Linked DNA regions of Homo sapiens: region 1 is linked to region 2. The links come from fine-mapping of genetic effects on gene expression. Tissue or cell type: whole blood. Region 2 holds a variant in brackets; the other region holds the start of a gene. All regions are shown on one strand. Distances are from middle to middle.

What was found. PIP is the estimated chance that this variant, and not a neighbour inherited with it, causes the effect.
Region 1: it holds the start of CREBBP, and the variant in region 2 is fine-mapped to the expression of CREBBP in whole blood (TOPMed, PIP above 0.99).

Annotation. Positions count from the first base shown.
Region 1 is chr16:3,876,430-3,885,308 of GRCh38, reverse strand. It overlaps CREBBP (CREB binding lysine acetyltransferase), which reads left to right and starts at 4,596. Exons shown (of 31, transcript NM_004380.3): 1 at 4,596-5,477. The coding sequence starts at 5,393. RefSeq lists silencers at 4,121-4,670, 4,691-4,740, 5,078-5,387, 5,428-5,477, 5,558-5,607 and an enhancer at 4,341-4,917.
Region 2 is chr16:3,853,772-3,862,650 of GRCh38, reverse strand. All of the region lies in intron 1 of CREBBP (CREB binding lysine acetyltransferase), which reads left to right. Among named protein-coding and RNA genes, the nearest start is that of CREBBP, 23 kb to the left of the region's middle. RefSeq lists a silencer at 2,580-2,764. The variant G/A (reference allele first, on the strand shown) is at 5,137.

The sequences.
Region 1 (8,879 bases), 23 kb before region 2:
CCTGCTTCCCACTGCCCCAAATAGCAGCTATATGGTGCCTTGGTGTGCCAGGGACCCTGTGCACCCTCCATCTCATCTCCACCGCACCTCAACTGTCTCAGCAGGTGAGGAGGTATTTGTTTTTTTTTTTCTTTTTTTGTTTTTTTGAGATGGAGTTTTGCTCCTGTTACCGAGGCTAGAGTGCAATGGTGCAATCTTGGCTCACCACAACCTCCGCCTCCTGGGTTCAGGCAATTATCCTGCCTCAGCCTCCCGAGTAGCTGGGATTACAGGCATGCACCTCCAAGGCCGGCTAATTTTGTATTTTTAGTAGAGATGGAGTTTCTCCATGTTGGTCAGGCAGGTCTCGAACTCCCAACCTCAGGTGATCTGCCCGCCTTGGCCTCCTAAAGTGCTGGGATTACAGGTGTGAGCCACCACACCTGGCCGAGGTATTTGTTTTCAAAACAGCTAAGAAAAAGCAGTAGGTTTGGGACTTGAACCTAGCTCTGTCTGGATCCCTCCACACCACCAGACCACATTCTGCCTTCTGTCCACCAGGAACTGGCTGGAATCCTGCCTTCCTGGGACTACTCCCCCAGGCCTCTGCCCCCCAACCCCGGGACTCCCACCCCTGGGGGATCAGTTATTATGATTTTGTGCTATTCTGACTTGGATTCTCTGCTTATCTTTTCAATGTGTGTCCTGTTTGTGTTTTTCTCCCCAATGCTGTTCTGCATCGCTTGAAGGCAAAGTCCAAACCTGATGCTATCTTTTAATCTATTTAAGCCTAGAAAGGGACAATCAATATCAAATTGCAACAATTCCATTTCTTTTTTTTTTTTTTTTTTTTTTTGTGAGACGAAGTTTCATTCTTGTTGCCCAGGCTGGAGTGCGATCTTGGCTCACTGCAACCTCCGCCTCCCGGGTTCAAGCAATTCTGCCTCAGCCTCCCAAGTAGCTGGGATTACAGGTGCCCCCCCACCATGCCCAGCCATTTATTTGTACTTTTAGTAGAGATAGGGTTTCACCTTATTGGCCAGGCTGGTCTCGAACTCCTGACCTCAAGTGATCCACTCACCTTAGCCTCCCAAAGTGCTAGGATTACAGGCGTGAGCCGCCGCATCCAGCCAACAATTCCAATTCCATTTCTTTCTCTTTCTTTTCTTTTCTTTTCTTTTTTTTTAGACAGTATCTCACTGTTGCCCAGACTGGAGTGCAGTGGTTTGATCATAGCTCACTGCAGCCTCAACCTCCTGAGCTCCAGTGATCCTATTGCCTTGGTCTCCCAGGCAGCTGGGACTACAGGTGCATGCCACCACGCCCAGTTCACTTTTTAACATTTTGTTGTAGAGATGAGGGTCTCACTGTTGCCCAGGCTGGTCTCAAACTCCTGGGCTCTAGAGATCCTTCCACCTCGGCCTCCTAAAGTGCCGGGATTACAGGCATGAGCCATCATGCCCAGTCCTTTGATTGTTTTTTAATGTGGTATCTGAGACTGGAGAGGGTGAGGTTTGTGGAAAGAGCAGGAAGCCTTAGGTGTGCACCGGAGTGAAGCCCCTTCGTGGCTGGGTGGCTTGTCCTCCTTTGTGCCTTATTTCTTCATCTGTGAAATGAGGACAATTTTTCCTTCCAGGATTGTAGGAAGTGCTATCCATGGGAGGCATGGCAGAGCGGCCTGGTATCCCTAAGGCACTCACTTGTTGAAGGTGATCCCCAGCTAAGTGAGTGCAGGCAGGAGCCACGCTTCCCTCCTTGCTATTCCCCCATCAGTGTCTGAGCTCAGGGTTCTTTGAGTCAGACTGAAGGGAGAAGAAATCGAAAGGAAAGAAAAAACAGGTATCAGTGAATACCAGAATTGATCAAAATGATACAGGTGAGAACAATGAGACAGAAAAAGGGACTGCAGAGCCGGTATATTTTGAGGGTGGAACATGGTGAGACAGGAAGACTAGGGTCTTTGGAGAGTGAGGACATGGGTTCCAGGCCCAGACTTGCCATGTCCGGGTTATTTACTTCTGAGTCCTTGCGACTGAGTTCCCTTGCTTTCCTCTGTAAAATGGAAACCTGTCAGGGAATGGCTCAAGCTCCTGTGCCCACTTCTGTGTAAACCACTCACCAATGGACCCCTGGGGGGCTGCATGGTGTCTCCACTGCCCCAAGGCAGGCCCTAAGACCTCTAGGTGGCTGGACACCTTGTCCCGTTTGAAGAGTGGCCTGGAGCCACCTCAGGCTGGGGCCCACCCTTTTCAGTGGCCTGAAGGCCTCTAGGACTCAGAGCACCTGACACAGCTCATCACTCATTCAGTTTTACAAACCTACTTCTTCTTGCAGAGCACTGTTTCTGTGACTAAGACACCATCTTTGCCCCGAAGGAGCTCACAGACCCTTGGTGAGACGGACACCCAGAGCATTCAGATACAGGGTGTGGCCTGCCCTGTGCCACTGATACACTTCTTGCCATTCCTGTGCAAACTGACTTCTTGAATACTTCCATTTATGGCTTCCAGGGTGTGCTATTTTAACTCCTTGAATATATGGGGATCTCTTTATGTTTGGCCAAGGGGATTAGCACAGTCTCAATGCCCTTGGGATTCTCAAGAGCTATTTGATGCATAAGTAAAAACATGAACTAATTCGGGGGCAGTGGAGGCGGGGAAGATGGGGCAGGATGTGTTATGTGTTCTCTCACAGAGCCCAGAAGTGATATGGGAGCCGAGGAGTGGGCTAGGAGGGCTTCCTGGAGTAGGTGACATTTGAACTGGGTTCTGGAGGATGAGTTAGAATTTGCCAGGCATGTCTTCTCAGCACAGGGACCAGCATTTGAAAAAAAAAAAAAAAAAGCCTGAATGATGTGAACTGCCTACTGGCCAAGTGGGTGTAGGATGATGATGGTGAAGTGAGCCATGTAAAGTAGAAGAGACAGATTCAAGAGCGGTATCACGGCCCAAGATTTTGAGCAGTACAGGTAAACAGAGAAAAGCAGAACGATCACTCAATCTTGACACTCAAGGACAGTCACCATATGTACATACACCTATGTTTTTAAGAGAATTCATACGTGTTCTTTTTTAAAGAAAGACTATGTAGTGTTTTCTTTTTCTATGTCTGGGATTTTGTTTTGTTTTGTTTTGTTTTTGAGACGGAGTTTCACTCTTGTCGCCCAGGATGGAGTGCAATGGCGAGATCCCGGCTTACTGGCCTCCCCAGTTCAAGTGATTCTCGCATCTCAGCCTCCCGAGTAGCTGGGATTACAGGCGCACGCCGCCACGCCCAGCTAATGTTTGTATTTTTGGTAGAGATGGGGTTTCACCATGTTGGCCAGGCTGGTCTTGAACTCCTGACCTCAGGTGATCTGCCACCGCGCCTGGCCAGGGAGTTGTTTTAAACAGATTTTCTCCCTCTCTTTTCGGGATGTTAACTCTGGTGCTGCGTGGGGAGCAACGTGGAGAGCAAAGAACACTTAAGTGAGTAGCTGCCACCATAGCCACCGGGACAGTGCGGGAGGAGCAGTCTCCCAGGTAAAGACCGTGGGTAGAGGGGCGCGTGGCGGGTGAGAGGGAGGAGTCCGCGCTGACTCACGGGTTTCTGGCTTAGGAAACAGTGGAGCTGCTGATACCTTTATGAGGAAGCCGGGCAAGTTTGGAGGGGCAGATAACTAACTGGGATGGGAACACCTCGGGTATTCGTAGAAGTGTCCCGCGGGCTGTGGTCTCGCGTGGGGGACTCCCCAGGCCCGCACCCCTGTCTGGGGCACCTGCGAGGCGCCAGGCAAGTTGCCTGGGGCGGGGAGTGCGGCCTGAGCGTCCAGGCTTAAGCCCCGATGCGCGGGCCCTTCTCCGCCCAGGCCGGCCCTCGCCACCCCGCTCTCACAGGTGAGGGTGTCTGCCCTGCCGCCTTGGGATGCGAACAGGCGTGAGGCCCCCTCACTCCCTAGTGTCACGAGGTAGGGCGGGACCCGAATCCCGGCCCTGCCACTTCCTGCCTCGACCACTTTGGAGCAGTTGCTCGCCCCCCGCCTCAGTTTCCCCATCCGCCCACCTCGTCGGCAGGACCCAAGGGCGGTCTGTAACCTGCAGAGGCCATTCCACTTCCCTGGCCGGCGGCGAAGGCTAGTGGCGCGGCCTGGGCTGGGGTCGCCCCGACCGTTCCCGACCGACGCCACCTAGGAGGGTCTGGGGAAGGGGACGCGAGGAGCTGGGAACACGCAGCGCCGCCCCAGCGGGACGGGCGGGCCCGGGCTGGCGTCGAATCCGCGCCCGAGAGCCCAGCCCGCGGCCAGGCCGCCGCTCCCGGAGCCCGCTGGGGCCCGGAGCCCCGGCCCTCTACGCCTGGTCGCCATCAGAACAAAAGCTGTGGCTCAGCCCGGAGCCCAGGCGCCCCGCAGGCCTGGCCCGCGCCGGGCCGCCAGCTTCCCTACGCTTGGCGGCCGCGCCTTCAGCCCTTCGGCCCGAGCACGCTCGGCTCTTTCCGCCACGGCCGGCGCAGGTGGAGGGGGCGGGGCGGGGGCCGTGCGTGGTGACGCCGCGGGGGGGTGACGCACCGGCGTGCCCCGCCCCCACCCCCTCCCCGTTCAGGCTCTGGAAAGAGAAGAAAAAAAACTTTCTTTTTTTTTTAATTGAGGAATCAACAGCCGCCATCTTGTCGCGGACCCGACCGGGGCTTCGAGCGCGATCTACTCGGCCCCGCCGGTCCCGGGCCCCACAACCGCCCGCGCACCCCGCTCCGCCCGGCCGGCCCGCTCCGCCCGGCCCTCGGCGCCCGCCCCGGCGGCCCCGCTCGCCTCTCGGCTCGGCCTCCCGGAGCCCGGCGGCGGCGGCGGCGGCAGCGGCGGCGGCGGCGGCGGAACGGGGGGTGGGGGGGCCGCGGCGGCGGCGGCGACCCCGCTCGGCGCATTGTTTTTCCTCACGGCGGCGGCGGCGGCGGGCCGCGGGCCGGGAGCGGAGCCCGGAGCCCCCTCGTCGTCGGGCCGCGAGCGAATTCATTAAGTGGGGCGCGGGGGGGGAGCGAGGCGGCGGCGGCGGCGGCACCATGTTCTCGGGGACTGCCTGAGCCGCCCGGCCGGGCGCCGTCGCTGCCAGCCGGGCCCGGGGGGGCGGCCGGGCCGCCGGGGCGCCCCCACCGCGGAGTGTCGCGCTCGGGAGGCGGGCAGGGGATGAGGGGGCCGCGGCCGGCGGCGGCGGCGGCGGCCGGGGGCGGGCGGTGAGCGCTGCGGGGCGCTGTTGCTGTGGCTGAGATTTGGCCGCCGCCTCCCCCACCCGGCCTGCGCCCTCCCTCTCCCTCGGCGCCCGCCCGCCCGCTCGCGGCCCGCGCTCGCTCCTCTCCCTCGCAGCCGGCAGGGCCCCCGACCCCCGTCCGGGCCCTCGCCGGCCCGGCCGCCCGTGCCCGGGGCTGTTTTCGCGAGCAGGTGAAAATGGCTGAGAACTTGCTGGACGGACCGCCCAACCCCAAAAGAGCCAAACTCAGCTCGCCCGGTTTCTCGGCGAATGACAGCACAGGTGAGGAGGGGGTCCGGGGCGGCGGGGGCCCGGGGCGCGCTGTCACCCCCACCTGAAAGAGAGCGTCCGGGGGTCGTGGTCGCGGATACCGATCGAGCCGGGAGCTCGGAGCAGGCCCCGCAGCCCGTTCCCCTCGCCCCGCGCGGGAGGGTGGAAGTTCGTCGCAGGACTGTCACTGGGCCCGAGTTGGTCAGCACACGCCCGGTGCACTCGGCCTCCCCGCACCCGATCAGCCCTCCTCGCGGGGACCCTAGTGGCACTCCAGGAGGGAAGAAGTAAAGTGCAGCGTGTGGGTTTGTTTGGTAATGTCCTACGCATCCATCCGCGGCCGTGTCCACACGCGTGGCCGTCCAGAGGAATGACAGCGGAGGGTACCTTTGATGCTTAGAGAAAGCAAGATCGCGGCCAAAGGTAGGGCAGTGTGTTTTCTGGATTGGCGACACATTGACCAGGCTGCATTCAGAGGACACTCACAGCAGCCGCCAGCTTGCGAGTTAGAACCGAAGTTTCTTGGAATGAGTGAGTTCCTTGGAAAGATGCTTAGTGCTTATTTTCAAAACTCCTTGTTTTGTGTGTGTGTGTGTGTGTGTGTGTGTGCGCGCGTGTGTGTTTTTAGTCAACTAGTCATTCCATTTTTCAAAACCCAAACTTCGTTAGCAAGATGTCATGAAAGTTGCTGTGGTGTGTTTCATTTCCATGTATAACTTCAAAAGAAAGTTAAACAGCAGGTTTAAGTTCATTTGGGCTGCAATCTCCATTTGAGTTTGTGTTGCTTTCACAGTGTAGATGTACAAAGAATTAAGGAATGTAGGAATTCCAATTTTTCAAAAAAATGGAGCAGGATACTGAATAAATCATCTTTTTGTTTGTTTCCTTTCATTAAACGGCTTCCCTGGAAACTTTCTTAAGTTATCATAGCTGCTTAAGAGAAGTATTTAGTTTTCTATTAATTCAGTAATTCTGGGTCCCACTGCGCTGGTTCATGGTAACATGAACTAGTTGTATTTCCTCTTTTAGAGCTCTCTCCTTTGCCGCAAAAACTTGTGTGCCGCTGCGAACAATTCCATCTCCAGCGCAGCTTGCATTTCTCCAGTAGTCTTGCAGTGGTAGCATCTGAAAATCAGTTTCTAATGAATGAGTCCAAATTGAATTACATCGCTGCCTTCAGATTTGCACTAGACACAGCTGTTCAACTTGTGGAAATAGTTCTGTGACCGACCACTAGCATATTAAAAAAAACTGCTATTGCTGTTGAAACAAAACCTGAATTTTGTGGCTTAAGTTTGAATACAATTCCTGGAATCAAGTTATGATAAGCGACGTTTAATATTAATGTAGAAGTGAAAAGCGATTTTTAAAGATCAATCATAAGGAGATTCTTATCTAGTTAAAATTTGTTAAACAGTGGGGAGGAGTAAATGATGCTCATGGTATATAAAAATCACTAATGCTTTTCTTTTTAGCTGATAAAAGTTGAGTTTGACGTTAATCTTATAAAATGAACTTATTGAAGTGAGAAATTTGGAAACAGTAGTTTAAATGCCGTTGTACTGCAAAACAGATCTCCGTTGCTTCATTAATCTTGCTGTGTTTGAGTAGTCTTCAGTTCTGTGAGACGTAGGTCATACGTGGCGAGTTCAGCTTTGAAGCTTGTCTTCTGAAACTGGTAACCTGGATGGCTTTGTAGCTTTGCTGTTGTTGAATGAATTTGTTGTAGATTTTGTCTTAAAAAGGGGGACAATTAGTAACACAAGACTTAACAAAAAGGCATGTCCTTATATGTACATCCAGCTGTTTCCAAGATGGAGCCCAAAGGTTAGCTTTTTCCATAGTAGTGTCCATTATTGGATGATCAGATGCTTAATAAGTTGATCAGAAAGGATTTTCCACACTTAACCACCTTTTCCCCCTTCCTTTACAATTTTGATCCTTGTAAGGCACAGGGGCTCTTTCGTGGGACCAAAAGTCAGCTTTAAATGGCTCCGATTTAATCCAAAGTAGAAAGTCAACATCATACTTAAGTTGGGTCATGTGTTACACATTCATCACCATCACACTATTGTGAAAGGGTCTGTTAGTATGGGGGACCAAGGAAGGGCTCATTATCAAGCACATTAAACAAGGGGCTGCTGGGCGCCATGGCTCATGCCTGTAATCCCAGCACTTTGGGAGGCGGAGGCTGGTGGATCAACTTCAGGTCAGGAGTTCAAGACCAGCCTGGCCAACATGGGGAAACCCCATCTGTACTCAAAATACAAAAACATAGCCAGGCATGGTGACATGCACCTGTAATTCCAGCTACTTGAGAGGCTGAGGCATGACAATTGCTTGAACTCGGGAGGCAGAGGTTGCAGTGAGCCAAGATCGCGCCACTGCACTCCAGCCTGGGTAATGGAGTGAGACGCTGTCTCCAAAAGAAACGAGGGACACTTTGTCTGTTGTAACTGCTCCACTAAGAAATTGAGTAATGAGATGGACAGAGATCTTAGGGATGTATTTTAAACAAATAAATGGCTTGAGTTTTTACATTAAATACATTCAAAAACTGAAGGCATTTGGTTAGGTGGGACAGACCTGAGAATAACATTCTTGAGGAACTCAATCTTATTTTAGTGACGGGATGTGTCTCTGAGGCTCCCAGGGGAAAATTGGGCCTAGTGGAGCAGGGTGTGTGCCCGGTGCATGTGATCAAATTTGAGGGAGGGGACCTCTGTCTAGGAGCTGAGGGGTTGAAAGGAGGAGGAGCCCTTGGCAGCCTGAGAAACAGGATCTACTTGGACTGCAGTGCATGTCTGTAGAGACTGGCCTGTGGGGCCACCAGTGTCACTTAGATGTGTCTGTGAAGGGTGGCAGTGAGCTGAGAGAAAAATGCACCCGACATTGGGGAGCTGCTCAGCCAGGGTGCTGCTCATCTGGGGGCATGGATGTTGCAAACAGCACTCCCGAAGGTCATGCAGCACCTCAGAGTGATGAATGTCACTGCCACTGATGACAAACAAGTTGCCGAAGCCTGGGAAGCTTATGCAGAGATGATGCAGAAATACGGAATGTGCTGCGAATGAGGGTAGCAAGAGAGAAACGGTACCTTTCACCCCACTGAAGCAGCAGCCCTGGAGAGGCACAGAATTTGATGGCCTCAGATGTTAAAGTAGCATTTTCTTGTATTATGTAGAAGCCTTTACACTTTCTCATACATGAGGTCTTCCTTTACTTGGCACCCTTACAATAAGTGGGGACTTTATATTACCGGTATATAGTTAGTTGGGTGTTTTGGAAACTTCTTTATTTAATATGTCCAAGTTAAAATAGCATATTGTGTCTTTCAACATCAGAGATTCATGATTTAACAGTATAAGACAAATATCCAGGCAAGCAGTAGACTTTTGTTTTTTGTTTTCTGGG
Region 2 (8,879 bases):
CCCCACTAGAATGTCGTATATGAAGAATGGACTTCTTGGGGAAGGTCGTTGTTAATGTCCACTTAAATATCGTTCATCATACAAAACACAGCATATGACAGGAAAACAAGAAAACCCAAATTCTAAGCTCTAGTATAAATGTAAGTGCTGTGTTGAGGGTTTTAAGACAATTCGGTTTATTAAACCCAAATTTAATAACCCGAGATTGTGTCACTGCACTCCAGCCTGGGCGACAGAGCAAGCCTGCCTACCGTAGTGAGGCCCTTCCCACCGTATGGAACTTGTACCTACCCTGGGGCTCCTGCCATCTTGGAGCTTTTCCCTTGAAGTTCCCCACAGCAGAGCAGCCATCTCTGCCTGCCTGTCTTGCTGTCTTCTGTCCCTGCCTCTTTGGAGTTGTCAGTGTCCTTTTCCTCTAAACTTCTGCTCAGAGCCTCTTATTTGAAGCCTTTCCTACTTTTGTTCACTGCCTTATTCCACTTGGCTGTAAAATATGACATACGTGTTAATTTAAGTTTGTGGCTTGGTGTCCATTGGCTGTCTTCCTCAATTAGAGTACAGTCCTCTGGGGAGGCCGACTTCTATTCTATCTCAAACCCAGCCGGTCCTGCACCGAGTGAGGGCCCCTGAGCAGTGACTCGCTTCCTTCTCCTGGGGAGGAGAGGGTGGGGGCTGCCGGCCGAGCTCTCTGGCTCTTCAGCAGATCAGTGATTCTGAGGAGGGGCAAGACTTACTCAAGATAAGATCACTGTTCAGAATGAAGTACAACCTCATTGTTCTGTTCTAATTAGGGATTGGTGTGTCTGCATAAAAGAAGCCTGAATTACGGAAGATTTTAGAAGGAGGTTGCTTTAATTATTTCCTAATAGTCATTGTAAAAAAAAAAAAAAAAGTTAGATGTCTTTTGGGAACTTGTTTAAATGCCTAGATAAAAATTACTTACGATGGCATAAATATTAATAAAACAGCTTTTCTCTTTCTTTTTTTTTTTTTTTTTTGGTATAGAGAGTTGTTCCATTATATTTATTTGCATAATCCCCAAGAACTTTCAAAGCAAAGTAACCTTTAATTCTACTAGAATTGCCACAGATCAGCAGGGATGAGTTTATTAGCAAGTCACTACCATTGATAAGTGGCGGCTGTTGAGCGCCTGCTCTGTACCAACCCTGGAGTGCCAGGTTCTTAAAGGCTTTGGCTGGTTCAGCCCTCATAGGTGCCTTGGGAGATGGGATTGGGACAGTGATAGTAATGACTAATATTTTTTGAGTCCTTACTGCATGCCAAGCTCAGTGCTAAATGCTGTATGGTTTAATTCTTTCATCAACGATCCTGCGAAGCAGGTGCTACTGTCCTTTATTTTATTTTATTTATTTATTTTTTTGGGACAGAGTTTTGCCCTTGTTGCCCAGGCTGGAGTGCAATGGCGCGATCTCGGCTCACTGCAACCTCCCAGTGATTCTCCTGCCTCAGCTTCCCGAGTAGCTGGGGTTATAGGCACCTGCCACCACGCCCAGCTAATTTTTTGTAATTTTCAGTATTTTTAGTAGAGACAGGGTTTCACCATGTTGGCTAGGCTGGTTTCGAACTCCTGACCATAGGTGACCCACCTGTCTGCCTCCCAAAGTGCTGGGATTACAGGCATGAGCCACTGCACCCAGCTGTCCTTCCATTTTAGAGCTAAGGAGGGGTACACAGGGAGGCAGTAGCTGTGGTGACAGCTGTGATCTGAACCAGGGCTTGGTTGAGTACTCTTCTCACTACACCAGACTGCACTTCCTGTGTCCGTAGTGTCTAATTAGTAATAGATCAGTAAACACACCGAGAGCGTAGTGTGGCCTCCAGGTCATTTAACAATAATAATAACAACACTGTGAATCCTTCCACCACTCTCTAGATTCCTCATCTCTAGGAGTGAACTTTTCCAGGATGCTTTGCCCTTGCTGGATCAAGTTTTTTGTATGTAGTTTTTTTCCTTCAAATTTTGTTTTAATTAACAAATAAAAATTGTATGTATTTATCATATACAACATGATGTTTTGAAATATCTATACATTGTGGATTGGCTAAATTGAGCCAATTAACATGTGCATTACCTCTTCCTGTGTCCGTTAACTTAGAAATTAAAAATTCTTTTTGGAGCCACAGTGGCACATGCCAGCAGTCTTGGCTACTTGGGAGGCTGAGGCAGGAGGATTGCTTGAGTCCAGGAGTTTAGGAGTTTGAGGCTACAGTGAGCCATGATCACACTTGTGAATGGCCACTGCACTCCAGCCTGGGCAACACAGACCCCATCTCTTAAAAAAAATTCCTTTTGGAAGTTTTTCGAGGGTAGGTAAATAGGTGAATAAAAATGTTTAGCTTTTGAAAGATTTAATAGAAGCATTTGAGTAGTCAGGGCTATAGTACAAGTCTGAGGATGTAGGGAAAAATCAGGTTTCTCCTATACTCCTTTATTCCTATACTCAGTGTCAACAGTCGACACAGAACACCTCTGGGACCAGATTTGTGGAGATGCCCCCAGCCACACACACACACCGAGTAGGCACTCGGTGCTGCAGCAGACGCCAGCTGACAGGCAGATGGTGTCAGATCCCACGGTTGAGGGCTCAGTCCTCAAGACTGCCCCCGCCCCCCACCATTTGCAAGCCCCAAGTTGTTTTACCTGTGCTTCTGACTGGCTATAAATGGGGTTCCCACAAGCCCCTCCTTGGGTTCAATTAATTTACTAGAGCGGTTGACAGAGCTCAAGGAAACATGTTTACTGGTTTTTTATTGTAAAGGATATTATGAAGGATACCACTGAATATCAGGTGATAGGGCAAGGCGTGTGAGAGGGCCATGTAGCCTTTTTGCCCCGTCCAGGTGTGCCACTCTTCAGGAACCTCCATGTGTTCAGCTATCTGGAAGCTCTCTGAACCCTGTACTTGTGAGTTTTTATGGAGGCTTCATTACATAGGCATGATTGATTAAACCATTGGCCGTTGGTGATCAACTTAAGCTTTAGTATCTCTCCCTTCCCTGGAAATTAAGGATGGGCTGAAAGTCCCAGTCCTCTAATCAGTCATGCCTTGGTCTTCCTGGTGACCAGCTCCTGTCCGAAGCTACCTAGGAGCTGCCAGCCATCAGTCAATTCGTGAGCATACGAAAAGACATTACTGGTTGGGTGTGGTGGCTCACACCTATAATCCCAGCAATTTGTGAGGCCGAGGCGGATGGATCACCTGAGGTTGGGAGTTCTAGACCATTCTGGCCAACATGGTGAAACCCCGTCTCTGCTGAAAATACAAAAAATTAGCCGGGTGTGGTGGTATGCGCCTGTAATCCCAGCTACTTGGGAGGCTGAGGCAGAAGAATTGTTTGAATCCGGGAAGTAGAGGCTGCAGTGAGCCAAGATCGTGCCACTGCACTCTAGCCTAGGCGACAGAGCCAAAAAAAAATAAAAATAAAAAAATAAAAAATAAAAATTCTATTTTGGAGATTCCAAGGATTTTAGGAGTTGTATGCCAGGAGACAGGGTGGAAGACCAAATACATAGTCACAGTATTACAAAAGTAATGCAAAAGACAATCTAAAGAAACCATGAAAAAAAAATCTAAAGAAAGGAGACCTTTTTCACAGGAAATAGGGATGTGAGAGAGAAATTAGGAGTGGGTGAGGAAGAGAAAATATGTGTGGGAGGGAAAGCAGAGAAGTATGAACACATCACAAAACAGCATCTGAACTCTTACATGCTTATTTCTTACACTACTGTTGCTCATCCTACATTATGCCATTTAATCTGTGTATCAATTCTAGGGTTGGGGTTCATTGATGCTGAGTTTGTAGCCAAAGAGTGAAATATACTTGGGTGGTCCCCTAAAAGGTAAAGAGGGCAATAGGAAAAAGTCTTAAAGAGAAAGATGACCCAGTGTAATATTTCTAGAGAATTCGTTATTGTTTCTGTTTTCAGAAAGTAGTAGTAAACATTAAGATTACTGCTTTATATCTTTGACTAGACAAGCAGCTTGTTGATACTGTGTATCCTCTATAATGTGAGCACTCATTCAGCACGTGGGTTTATTGAGTGCCTAGTACATACGAAGCATTTTATGCTAGGCACTGAGTAGATAAGCAAGACAGGATCCCTGCTTTCAGGGAGCTTACAGCCCCACGCACGTTATAACGTGAAATTGTTAGCATAATTTTAACGCATTGTGTCTGTAGGAGCATAAAAGAGTTCTTATTTCCAGGAGAAGGTGTGATAGACCAGTCCTGTCAGTACAAATAATCTGGGGCTCCAAGTGGAATTCAAAGAAGAAAATAAGGTATTATGGAAGAGGAGGCTGTAGAAAACCTGAAGAAAGGTGTGTTTTGTGGATACTTTGGCTGATGGCTTTGAAATTTTTTTCAGATGAGGCTGTTTTCAAATGTTATTGGCTGCACAGATTGATTTAGCCACCCACCTGGTGTTTGATTCTAGTAGTTCATTCCTTGCTTAAGGTGAAATGCTGATTTCTGATCATCATTATTAAGAATGGATCCTGGAACAGATGTAGGTACCATTTGTCTTTCAGTGTTTAGGAGTGATCCCCACCTAACAGTCTGCATGCAGACCACCGGCTTGGGTTTCCTAGTATAGAAGTGAATGTCCTCTGTACCTTGCTTGGTAAACAGTTGCCTTTCCTGAGGCTGGCTGAGTTTGGCTGTAACTTTCTCCTTCCTAAGTCCCTACTATTTTCCTCATTCCTCACTGGGTCTTCCCAGCCTCGTATGAGTGTGATAGAAATGGGGAAATGTGTAGCCTCTCTTTTCTCTCATTTCAGCTTAATGAAAGGGGTAGCCTCCTGGTTGGCAGCCAGGAAGCTGCAAAAGGGAAAATTCCTTTCCCTAGCTATGGAAGTATGACAGGCAGTGTTCGCTATTTGATATCGGCTGGTGAAGTTTCCTTGAGGTGCAAATGCTCTGGGTGCAGGGTGCCCACAGTCTCCTTTTCTTTGCATTCTCCCGGGCCCCCTGGTAACGGTCAGAGAGAAGAGGGCTTACCTGGGACTGGATCGCTGTCAATCGTGAACCTTAGGAACTTCCGATGATACAGATTGCTCTTGCTTAACCCATGTGTTGGGACACTTTGGTGTGTAGAAAGCAAAGCTGTGTTGT[G/A]TTGCAATATCCTGGCCTGCCTCCTTCACTCCCCTTTGTCAGTTTTGCTGAACTAGGGAATATGGAAATGTGGTGACAGTGGTAAACAGAAGGGTGATGGTACGACTACGTGTGCGCCCTATCTTGCCTTTTAAAAAGCCACACCTGTATATTTGGTTTTACACATATTCATATGGTGAATTACAGAAGAAGAATTTGTCTAACTCTGCCTTCACCCAAACAGCTGGTATATGTATTTGGACTGAAATAGGATGAAAAAGTGGTCACGGTGGTCAGAGTGTAGCAGACCAGTGAAAAACAAAAACACTAGCCCAGGACATAAGCCCTGCTTACAACTTTGAAACTTGCCTGTGAATTTGATAAGAACTAGAATAAACCATAAATGAAAACTGATAGCTCTGAGAGTGGCAGGATGATGGGTGAAGTTTTTAACTCTGGGGCGTTGGTACCCTTGTTTTACAGGTGAGGGTATGAAGATGCAGAGATGAAGCAGTTTGCCTAAGGATGCAGGATTTCAACTCCTGTGCTCAGCTTCCAGCTGTTCTGTTCCCATTGTTCTACACTGAGGCCAGCCCTGCCCTGGGTTTCACTAAGTACTCTCTGAGTTTATCTGCTCTTCTGTGGCCTGGCCTCCCTCTCCTAGGAAGAGTGCTTAGGGATGTTCAAAATAGCCAGTTAGGTCGCCTTTTGCAGATTTTTCCAAACTTAAATATAAAATATTTGGCCCTTGTTTGCTTCTGGGTTACAGTGCTTGACACGGTCTCTTCATCCTCGCCCTGGACAGAAAGGAAGGAGAGCTGATCTCTAATGGTAATGGCTCCAGTTCCTGGTTTAGATGAAGTTTCATTTTCATGCTCATCAGTTAAGGAACACTGCATTTTTAAAAGTAGTTATTTTGGGCTGCAGTGGCTCATGCCTGTAATCCCAGTGCTTTGGGAGACTGAAGTAGGAGTATTTCTTGAGGCCAGGAGTTTGAGACCAGCCTGGGCAACATAGCAAGACCCCATCTCTACAAAAAAAAATTTTTTTAATTAGCTGGCAAGCCTGGGAAACATGGCGAAACCCTGTCTCTCCAAAACAGTACAAAAATCAGGTGGGTGTTTTGGTGCAGGGCGGAAGCTGCATTGAGCCTGCAACTTCACTGCACTCCAGCCTGGGTGCCGGAGCAAGACCCTGTCAAAATAATTATTTAATTAATTCATTAATTAAAAATAAAATAAAAAATGAGCTGTTTGTGGTGGGGCACACCTGTGGTCCCAGCTATAGGGGGCTGAAGCGGGAGAATTGGTTGAGTCCAGGAGTTTGAGGATACAGTGAGCTGTGATTGTGCCATTGCACAGAGGTGACAGAGCAAGACCCTATCTCTAAAACATAAAATAAAAAATAAAATGTTGTTATTTGGGGGGGTACATATTTTCTTTTTTCCTTTTATTTGTAGTTGACATGTGATTGTATATATTAAGGGGTTACAGAATATTTTGTAACATGCATGCAATGCATAATGAGCAAATCATAGTAATTAGGATATCTACCACCTCAAACGTTTATCATTTGGGTTGGACAAAAATATTTATTAAGGAGTACCGAGTAAATTTGTGTGTGCAGGTGGACAAAGCCTGGAGGGCAACAAACAAAACAGTAGTTATGATAGAGAGGACTTTTTAATACATATTTAATAAATATTGTACAGTTTGTGTCTGGACACCTCAGTGAATCTCCAAATTTAGGATAGCAAAATAGCGTAAAAACTATGGATTGGAACCCTCAGAAGCATGTTGAGACCTATTTCACCAGGTACAGGCCCTGTGCCCTCATGGAACTGTCTGCTGTATCCGGGATCAGATTCCTTTCTCTTCAAAATGACATGCCCTGTAACCATGAGGAGGTACCCCAAATTGAAGGACCTTCTACAATAACAACTGGCCTCTATTCTTCAAAAATGTCAGTTATGGCCGGGTGCAATGGCTCACGCCTGTAATCCTAGCACTTTGGGAGGCTTAGGCGGGCGGATCACCTGAGGTCAGAAGTTCGAAACCAGCCTGGCCAACGTGGCGAAACCCCGTCTCTACTAAAAATACAAACGTTAGCCGGGTGCGGTGGTGCACGCCTGTAATCCCAGCTATTCTGGCTGAGGTTGGAGAATTGCTTGAACCCGGGAGGCAAAGGTTGCAGTGAGCCTGGATCGTGCCACTGCACTCCATCTAGCGTGGGCAACAGAGCAAGACTCTGTCTAATAAACAAATAAGAATAAAATGTCACTTACGAAAGACAAAGGCCAGGGAACCTTTGATCCTTTTTCGATTAAACAAGGTGACAAAGACATGACAATTAAATGCACCATGATCCTGAATTAGATCTTGGATCTTGTAATCTCATGGCTATAGGACATGTCATTTTGAAGAGACAGATGTGTGATAAAGATCATTATTGGGACAACCAGCAAAATTTGAGTAAGGGCAGTATATTCAGTATTGTATCAGTGTTACATTTCCTGAGTTGCACATGCATACTGTGATTATGTAAGAGGATGTTGTTAGGAGATACGTACTGAAGTACTTAGGAGAACAGTGTTATTTCGTCTGCAACTTACTCTCAGTCTCGGTTTTTCTTCAAAAACTGTTACATGCATGTACACACTCCTAAATCACATCTCATTCCTTACAGACAGGTGGGAAGATAACAAGTGTGTGTTAGACGTGGTTTTCTAGACTGACAAGAGGGACTGGTCTGTTCTGCAGGGGCAGCCCAAAGAAAGTCTTCATAGTTGCTGTGTTTAATCTGAGTGGGAACTGAGGTGAGTTTTAGAATGAGAGATTCAAGAAGAAAGATTCCCAATGCCTGTGCCAGCTCTCAGTGTTGTGGCTGGAAAGTAGGGGGCATCTGGTGTTGTCCTGTAAAGGAAGGCCAAGAAGATAGCCTCACGTGCCATGAGAAGGTGTTTGAACTTCTTCCATAGACATGATGGGTCTGTTAGGGTTAGGGTGAGGTTAAACTCCAGCTAAAATGGCTTAAGTGATAGTAAGTGTATTTTCTCACATAACATGAAGTTTGAAGGTGGGGAAGTACTAGGGTTGCATCACTCAGCAGTTCAGAGATGATCTCCCCACCCCAGGTGTTTATGTTTTTGGCTACAGCCATCCTTAGCATGCAAGTGGTGTCTGCTCTCCTGGCTACAGGGTGATTGTCACCTGCCCATGACGAGATCTGGTGAAGAAGAGGAGGGAGATTTCTTTCTGAGCATCCATTGCTGTGAGGAAGGAACACCTTTTCCACAATGGTCCTGGTTCAGTGTACCTTCAGATTCCCTTAGCTGAGATTGTGTCACTTGCAAAGGGGAACGTGATCGTGGTGGTGGGCTTATCTGGTTACTCTCCCTCCTGTGGCCAGGGAACGTTCCTCAGAGGAACCTCCCAGGCAGCCACTTCAGATCATGTGGGTGTTGCCAGCAGCATGGGGCCAGGGGTATTGGGTGAGCAGACATTAGGGTCTGCCACCATGCAGAAAAAAGGTTTTAATTTTCTTTTCTTTTTCGTGTGTGTGTGTGTGTGTGTGTTTGTTTGTTTGTTTGTTTGTTTTTGAGACGGAGTTTCGCTCTTGTTGCCCAGGCTGGAGTGCAATGGCGATATCTCAGTTCACTGCAACTTCCACCTCCCAGGTTCAAGCGACTCTCCTGCCTCAGCCTCTCGAGTAGCTGCAATTACAGGCGCCTGCCACCACGCCCAGCTCATTTTTGTGTTTTTAGT